Regions from separate parts of the Homo sapiens genome. Here region 2 is linked to region 1. The links come from fine-mapping of genetic effects on gene expression. Tissue or cell type: whole blood. Region 1 holds a variant in brackets; the other region holds the start of a gene. All regions are shown on one strand. Distances are between the middles of the regions.

What was found. PIP is the estimated chance that this variant, and not a neighbour inherited with it, causes the effect.
Region 2: CTBS starts here. The variant in region 1 is the best candidate, but not a certain one, in a credible set for the expression of CTBS in whole blood (TOPMed, PIP 0.71).

Annotation. Positions count from the first base shown.
Region 1 is chr1:84,477,260-84,481,650 of GRCh38, reverse strand. RPF1 (ribosome production factor 1 homolog) reads right to left here and starts at 2,385. Exons shown (of 9, transcript NM_025065.7): 1 at 2,142-2,385; 2 at 639-695. The coding sequence starts at 2,369. RefSeq lists enhancers at 1,809-1,968, 2,164-2,724. The variant G/T (reference allele first, on the strand shown) is at 2,678.
Region 2 is chr1:84,572,742-84,577,132 of GRCh38, reverse strand. It overlaps CTBS (chitobiase), which reads left to right and starts at 2,693. Exons shown (of 7, transcript NM_004388.3): 1 at 2,693-2,894. The coding sequence starts at 2,718. RefSeq lists a silencer at 2,561-2,680 and enhancers at 2,841-3,130, 3,241-3,340, 4,054-4,103.

The sequences.
Region 1 (4,391 bases):
CCACAAATACAGCCAAATTCTTTCTTGATGCATTATCTGCTCTTTTCTCTGCCATAATCCTCACCGTCCTCCCACTCCCCATTCTCACTTTTCACAGGTTCATATCCTCTGTACCAGCTCTAAAGCTTAACACACCCTTATCACCCTACTCCAGAAGAGGATCTGTCCTGCCTTTCCCCAGCCTTGCCTGACCAAAAATCTTTGCTTCACATGACAAGAGCCAAGCTCCAGGCCTAACCTGGGGGAGCTTCCCCATTCCCAAAGTCAGGGAGAGGTGTTGACCTCTGAAACACAAAGTTATATGCAAAATACCACCACTGTGTTACCGTATAGGTACACAAACATACACAGTAAAGGTAAAAGAAGTGCATGGAAAAAATAATCAAAAATTTCACGAGTGGTTATCTTCGGAGGGAAAAGCAATTATGAAGCAGACGAGGGGCTTCCAACATTCTTTGCTAATGCATTATTTCTTAAGCTGGGTAAATGATACAAAGAGGTTTATTATATTACTTTTGTATTTCTTCATACATCTGAAATACGTAATAATAAATTTTAAAAGAAAGTAATTCAACTTAAATATCAGGAGGGATTCCCTAATATAAGATAGAAAGCAAACAGCTAAAAATTTTATTTACCTTATCGCCAAGAGCCTCTCTTTCTTTTTTAAGTTTTTTCTTAGCTGCCAACTTTTCCTAAAGGGTTAAAAAAAAAGAGAACAATACTGAGAAACAACCAGTTATATCACAAACACATACTGAAACTACAAATTACTAATGCTATGAATACTCGAACTGGGCGGTCTTTGTAATCTATTGAAATAAGCATCTGGACGTGGAGTTTTCTACCTAAATTACTGTAAGCCAAATGAGCTGGCCAATCAATAAGATTTCTTTAACAAAGACCTGCTCCTTTAAAAAAATCTAAACTGGCAAGTTTGAACATTTAAAATTTGAGTAGCTTAACCTTTTTCCATAAAGCCTCAAATTAATTAAAGTATGTGATGGTTTCCACTGTGTTTTGTTTTGCCTAACTGGTGGCATCCTAAAGACGACCATGGTTATGCTGCTTGCTTCTCTTGAAAAGCACTAAAAATAGGAATGGGAGCTGAGTTTTCAGGTTGTTTTCCATAAAACCATCACCAGTTATTCACATATTTTATAATCAAAATATACTTCTAAAATTTAGTAAGAGCTTGCAAGGTGGCTTAAGATTATCTGTATTTGTATTGTCAATCTATATATTCTTCTGGAGATTTCTAGATAGAATGCTTGACAAAATAAAAAATATTCTTTTTTCCCCAGCACCTACTGATCCTCAATCCACCAGGTTTCAGATTAGAAATCATAGCTCCAATAAGTCTTCCAGGACATCCCTCCCCAATACGTGCATACCAGAATGAGTTAAACGCCCCTTGTATGTATTGAAACAGCACCTTGACACTGAACATGAGTAAGAACCAGTCCCGGGCCTCAGAAGGGCCAGTAAGAGGAGGCAGACACATAATAATAATATTGTGTGAACTTCTACGATGTGCAAGAATAAGCAAACGTTTTCTTCCAATTGCAATTTAACCAGAAATGAGCACTGCGACCTTGACAAGTCGTTTAAACCTCTTTACGTTTCAGTTTGTTTACCTACCAGAAACGTATAAGGATAAAGCTGAAAAGAACAAATACAATTACCAGAAACTTTACAGTACTAATTTCGGTAAGGAGCTCCTGCAGGAATCAGAGAAGCAGTATTTTGGATTTATTACGTATTGCCTCCATTTCAGATTCTGCAAATTAACCAACGCTACCTAGACGGACCAAAGGGCTGAGACTTTTGCCTTCTGGGCCAGGAGGGCGTAGTTTTCACTACTAAGCCAACTGGCCTTACAGCTTTCCTTGTGAATCTAGCGTCCCAGGAAAGAGCCTATCAAGATAATCTTCCACCTTGACGCTCAGGCAAAAGGCTGAACCTAGAGTCTCCAAACTAGGGCGAGGGGACCAGAACACGTGGGCCGCGACGCCACCCTTCCCACGGAGCCACAGAGAACACTTTTGAGACCAGCAGACAACCACAGATGTGCGCCCCGCGACCGCCCTAAGCGTCAGGAACAACGCGCAAGCGCCCGGCAGCCCCCGCCTCTCGCGTACCTTCCGCTGCTGCTGTTTCCACCGCGTGAACATTAAGTGTCGCCGCTGTTTGTTTTTAATCTCCGAAATGCTAAAGCCTGGCGGAAAGGCAGCCGCTTTCGGGGGTTGGACCCCGTTTTCCGTCGCCCCATCCCCAGCGCCTGCAGCCTCCTGAAGTTCTTCGGCAGCGGCTTTCCGTTTTAGACTTTTCTTCCCGCTGCTGCTGCTCTTATCCCCGGCTTTCGCCATGGTCTTGGCTCCTTTGCTTCCGTACGGAAACGGAAATAGCCTTCTCCTGTGACCCCCTTCCTTAACCTTTTACTTCCGGGGTCGCAAAGTTTTTGACGCTAGATGTGTTTTGTGAGTTTTAGCCATTCAAGAAAATAGTAAAGCTGAGGCTTGAGGAAACTTTAGGCAGTTTGCCCAGCTGTATAAAGAGTGAGATGATGAGTTTGGGCACTCCTTGCGCATCTATGTGCCCAGCCCTCAAAATAATGGAACAACAACAAAAACCGTGCCTGGATTAGTTTACGTTTTACTTGAGGGAAACCTAAAAT[G/T]AGCATACAAATAAATTATGGTGAGCTACAGAGTAAGACATGGTATGGAAAAAAAATAGAACAGGATAAAAGAAGATGAAGAGACATTCATCTTTTTGAGACGGAGCCTTGCTTTAATGCCCAGGCTGGAGTGCAGTGGCACGATCTCCGATCACTGCAAACTCCTCCTCCTGAGTAGCTGGGACTACAAACACGTGCCACCATGCCCGGCTAATTTTTGTATTTTTGCAGAGATGGAGTTTCACCATGTTGGCCAGGCTGGTCTTGTACTCTTGATTTCAGGTGATCTGTCCGCCCTGGACTCCCAAAGTACGTTGCAATTTTAAATAGGATTCTCAGAGTAGGCTTCATTGAAAACGTTACATTGAGCCAAGGTTTGAAGGAGGTAATGGGCTAAACTAGTTATCTGAGGGAAGAGCTGTTAATCTGAGAAAAGCTGGTTATCAAGGAGAAAAGCTGTCCTGGCAAAGCAAACAGCCAGCTCCAATGCTCCTAGTCAGTAGCAAGCCAGGAAAGGCAAGAAGTGTTGAGATTGGACAGGTGGTGTAGAGTTTTGTAAGGACTTTGGCTTTTATTTTATGTGAGATGAAGATCTCTTATAGAATTTTGAGGAAAAGAATGGTATGATCTTAACATCTTAAAAGTATCAGGCTGGTGCAGTGGCCCATGCCTGTAATTTTAGCACTTTGGGAGGCCAAGGCAGGAGGATTGCTTGAGCCTGGGAGTTCAAGACCAGCTTTGGCAACACTGTGAGACCCCATGTCTACAAAAAGTAAAAAAATATATATATCTGTTTGGGCATGGTGTACATCTGTGGTCCCAGCTACTCAGGAGGCTGAGGCAGTAGGATCCATTGAGCCTGGAAGGCTAGGTTGCAATGAGCCATGTTGGTGCCACTGCATTCCAGCCTGGGTGAGAGGGTGAGACCCTCTCAAAAAAATAAATAAAAATAAAGTAAAAGCGTCATTCAGAATCTTCTTTTGAGAAGAGCCTATGCAGGGGCAGGGTGTGTGGAAGAAGGGAAGAAATGATAGTGGCCTGAACCAGGGTAAGTCTTGTGTAGGTGGTTGAGAAGTGATTCCTCTGGAAGGTAAAGTTACTGATGGAACTGAAGGGAGGACATGAAAGAGTCAAGGATGACTCCAAGACTTTCGACCTGAGTGATTCAAAGGATGGAGTTACCATCAGGTGAAATGCGGGAAAGTTCAGATGGAACAAATCTGAGAGGTAAGATCAAGATTTCAGTTTTGGAAATGTTAAGTTTGAGATACTTTTTAGTGATCTGATTGGTGGTGTCAACTAGTCAGTTGGGATGTATGATTCTGCAGCAGGACAGAGAGGTGTGGGCTAAAGATCAAACTTTGGAAGTAATTGGCACATAGGTAGTATTTCAAACCATTAGAATGAGTGTAGATAGAAAACTGAAAAAAGAAGATCAAGGACTGAACCCTGGAGGAGTCCTGCATGAAGAGATGGAAAGAAAAGGAGGACCCAGCAAAGGAGAAGGAGAAGAGAAAATCAAGAGAGTAGAATGTCATGGAAGGCAAGTGAAGAAAGTGTTTTCCTAGTGGTTAAATTTGCTGTATTCTTCATTCTAATTTTATGAAAATGCTTTCCAAATAGCAACAAGAAATCCCTTTTGATTTACTGTTAGGAGTCAGTTTTCCAGAATCTGCCTTAATTTCAAATTTTATGTACCAATATCTATATTTCG
Region 2 (4,391 bases), 95 kb before region 1:
GGTTGGCCTGTAGGTGGATTTGGGAGTGTTCCTGCTGTTCCCTGAGTCTCTAATGAGCTTCCATGGCAGACAGCCCTTCACACATGTTACAACGTGATGCTTGTGCTTGGCCTCCTCCTGTCTTCTTCCTGTGCACTTTTTCCCTTTGCTCTTTTGCTTCATATTCTTCTGCTGTAATAAATCTTAACTGTGAGTACAACTGAGTCCTATGAGTTCTTTTAGTGCATCACTGAACCTGGAGGTGATCTTAGGGATCCCTAACACAGGTAGATATGTGTTTTCTTCTGTGTCACAGAATACAGTCTGATTCTATGAGTCAGAAGGCTCTTTTCCTTGAAAACTTGATTCAGTGCAACCATTCATGTTAAAAACATAGTTACATTTCAGTATCATGAGGGATTGGTTCCAGGACTCCCAGATACCAAAATCCATGGATGCTCAAGTCCCTTATATAAAATGGCATAATCTATGCACATCCTCCTGTACTTCAAATAATCTCTAGATTAATTATAATAATACGATGTAATGCTATGTTGACAGTGCTCTTGCCGTATTTTTATTTGCATTTTTAAATTGCTGTATTATTTGTTATTTTTAAATACTGTTATCTGACATTGGTTAAAACCATGGATGTGGAACCTCTGGTTATGGAGGTTCAATTGTACTTTTTTTTTTTTTGAGACAGGATCTTGTTTTGTCACCCAGGCTGGAGTGCAGTGGCATGATCATAGTTCACTTCAGCCTCAACCTCCCGGCTTCAAGCAATCCTCTCATCTCAGCCTCCCGAGCAGCTGGGACTACAAGCTTTTACCACCGCACTGGCACACAGGGCTAATTTTTTGCTTTTTATTTTTTGTAGAGACAGGGTCTATGTTCCCCAGGCTGGTCTCAAACTCCTGCCCTCAAGTAATCCTCCTGCCTTGGCCTGCCAAAGTTATGCAATTGCAGGTGTGAGCCACAGTGCCTGGCCTAGCTTTTCATTCTGAAAACGCGTGTTCTTCAGTCCTGGAGCCTTGATAATTACTTATTTCTTTTCTTTTCTTTTTTTTTTTTTTTTTTGGAGACAGAGTCTCACTCTGTTGCTGAGGCTGGAGTGCAGTGGTGTGATCTCTGCAACCTCCACCTCCCAGGTTCAAGCGATTCTCCTGCCTCAGCCTTCCGAGTAGCTGGGATTACAGGTGTCTGCCACCATGCCCAGATAATTTTTGTATTTTTAGTAGAGATGGGGTTTCACAATGTTGGCCAGGCTGGTCTCAAACTCCTGAGCTCAAGTGATCTGCCCACCTCGGCCTCCCACAGTGCCGGGATTACAAGCATGAACCACTGTGCCCAGCCCAAATTACTTATTTCTTCTTATTTGTACTACGCTGCTTCTCAAGCACCTTTAAGAATTATTTATTTCATCCCCTCTGTACTGCGTTTTCCAATTTTCTTATCTTTCAGAGTTTTTGCTCTACATTCCTCAGTGTTATCTTCTACTAATAGTTTTTTCACTTCTTTCTTATTTCTATTAACTTTTAAAAATCCCCTACCCCTTTTATTGCACCCTGTTGTGGCTTCATCTTCTCTTATTTTTCTGGGGCTATTATGAGAATTTTTAAAAGTGTTCTCCCTGCAGCATCTGCTTCCTCCATATTCCTTTGTCTGTTGTTTGGGTCCCTTCTTTCTACATTATTGGATTTTTTTGGTTGCTGTCCATGATTAAAAGTAAAAATTAAAAAGTACAAAGAGAGGAAGCTCCAAGTAGATAGCTGGTGCTTTTAACTTTGAATTTCACTGTAGGGTGATCTGGGTGTATGATTTGTCCAGAAAACCCGATGTCAGTATCTTTGCTCAGCCTCTTAGGTTAATCAGATAGCGAGGGGTTTCAGTTTTCAGTAGGCATAAAGCCACTTATTCTCCGTTTTAGGTGGAATACCCACTCAGCAGAGAATTTATCCCCTTCAGGGAATTCAGCCGGGGTGGGAGCCCGTGGTGGGAAAGAGGGGCAGCTGCCCAGAGACATGAAGCTGGAAAAAGGATCTAGCGATCAGAGTCCTTGAGCAGCCTTTGACTAATCTCCCCCTTTTCCGATTTACCTCTCATACTCATACTTGTGCTCTCCAGCTTCCAACATTTTGTTGCTGTTATCTCTTTGTCCTTGTGTTTAGGTTGTTAAACTTGATTTTTAACAGGAGAGTAGGCAAAATTAGATGCTTGAATTCAAACCACGATCTTAACTAAGACCTGATATCCGTAAGTAAAAATTTTTGGTATTCCAGCTTTCTTTTGAGTAGCAAAAGAAAAACAAAGTCTTTTGGCCACTCCAACCATGTTACTCAGTAGGCCCTTCCAAAGACACCCACTTCTCCATTTTGGGGATCCCCTTGTACCTTCAGACTCCACAAGGAGTACACGACCAGCCACGACAAAACGAGATGCAGACTATTGGGAGGACTATAAACGGTAGGGGTGATACCCATTTGAGTCCACGAACGGCCCTCTCGGCGCCGCAGACACTGGCTGTCCCCCGAGACGCTCCAGCAGCCACTTAACTTCACCCACCTGTAGCGCCCGGGGACGCTCGAAGCCCGACCTCCCACGCCCGCCCCGGAGCCCCGCCCCTCCCGCCCCTCCCCGCCCTTCCCGACTCTCCCCGCCCCTTCCTGCCCCGACGCGCAGCAGGCCCCGCCCACCCAGGCGGTAGGAACCCACTCCGGCCCGCTAGACCTGCTGCTATGTCCCGGCCGCAGCTTCGACGCTGGCGCCTCGTCTCTAGCCCGCCGAGCGGCGTCCCGGGTCTAGCGCTGCTGGCGCTGCTGGCGCTGCTGGCGCTGCGGCTCGCGGCCGGGACCGACTGCCCATGCCCGGAGCCTGAGCTCTGCCGCCCGATTCGCCACCATCCAGATTTCGAGGTCAGCGCCTTCCTCTGCTCCTCTAGGTCTGGGCTTCAGGGCACGAAGAGAAGTTAGGGTAGAACGGAGCCCTAAGGAGAGGTGCCGTGGGCGCCGAAACCAGCTTTGACCACTCGATGAGGGCCTTCCTGTTTACGGATCCTTCAATTTATAGATGAGGAAGCTCGGGCTCAGAGAAGTTGAGTAACTCCTCAGGCCTCACAGCCTGTAAGTGCCTGCGTAGGCAGGCGAGAGTTCAAACCAGATCTGCCTCCTAAGGCAAGCTCCTTTCATTCCCCTGCTGTGCCTCTGCGGAAGCACTCTGGGTGTAAAAAGCAAACAAGGTAGGATAATCCATTTATGTTTCCAAGGAACGAGGATTTCGTTTGAAAGAATCTCAGCACTCCAACAGTACATTAGAATGCAGAGTATTTTGCTTACCTTTAGTTTTCTATACCTGCTAGCCCTTTCCTTTAAAGTACCTCAAAACCACCCATGAAGAGTGGTAAAAAAAATAGCTTTCAGTACATTTTCCTTCTATCTACATAACAATTTGTAAGGCTTCTGGCAACTTTAATCAAACACCTTCTGGAGCAATATTAAAACCACCTGACTGCCCACTTCGATGACTGAAAGCAGGAATTGGATGACATCAGGAAGGTCCAAAGGCTTAATTCAAAGAACGATTCTTTTGTAGAAATAGGCATGATTCCTAGTTCTTAATCTAGTACATTAATCTGAGGCAGAACACTTAGATGCCAGTAAAAAAGTATATATACATGACTTAGGAGAAGAAATAAAAATGGTGAAAGTGTTTATGGAGAACCTGCCTAGTGTGGAAACCTAACATCTTATTAAAAGAAAGACTTCAGACAAAGTAGGATAACCTTTTTTATTTGAGCAAAGAACAACTTATGAATCGGCAGTACTTAAACCAGAAGGGGTTCAGAGAGGTCTGCTTTAGTAGCATGGGCTTTTATAGGCCGAACAGGGAAGCAAAGGAAAATAATTACTTGGTTGGCTATGACTGTTTGCCTTATTTAGCTATGACTTGGTGGAAAATTACTAGTTAGAGGTTAGTTGGCAGTTTCTGATAGGTTAAGCTTAAGTTTCCTTTCACTGTTGACCTTGGGCTGGAGTTTGCTTAAGCAGGAAATCCAAGGCAGTTGGAGCTGTTTCAGCATAATGGCCTCCCAATTAAAATGTTTTATACAATCTGAGGCCCAGCGCGGTGGTAGAGGCAGTGGGGACAGTAGCTGTAAAAGTTCAACCAGACATTTCTTAATTTTCTCAATCTCTTTTTGAGATTGAGAAGCACTTTGTGAGGCCAAGGTGGGTGGATCACTTGAGGTCAGGAATTCGAGAACAGCCTGGCCAACATGGTGAAACCCCGTCTCTACTAAAAATACAAAAATTAGCTGGGCGTGGTGGCGGGCACATGTAATCCGAACTACTTGGGAGGCTGAGGCAGGAGAACCGCTTGAACCTGGGAGGCGGAGCGGGAGGCGGAAGGTTGCA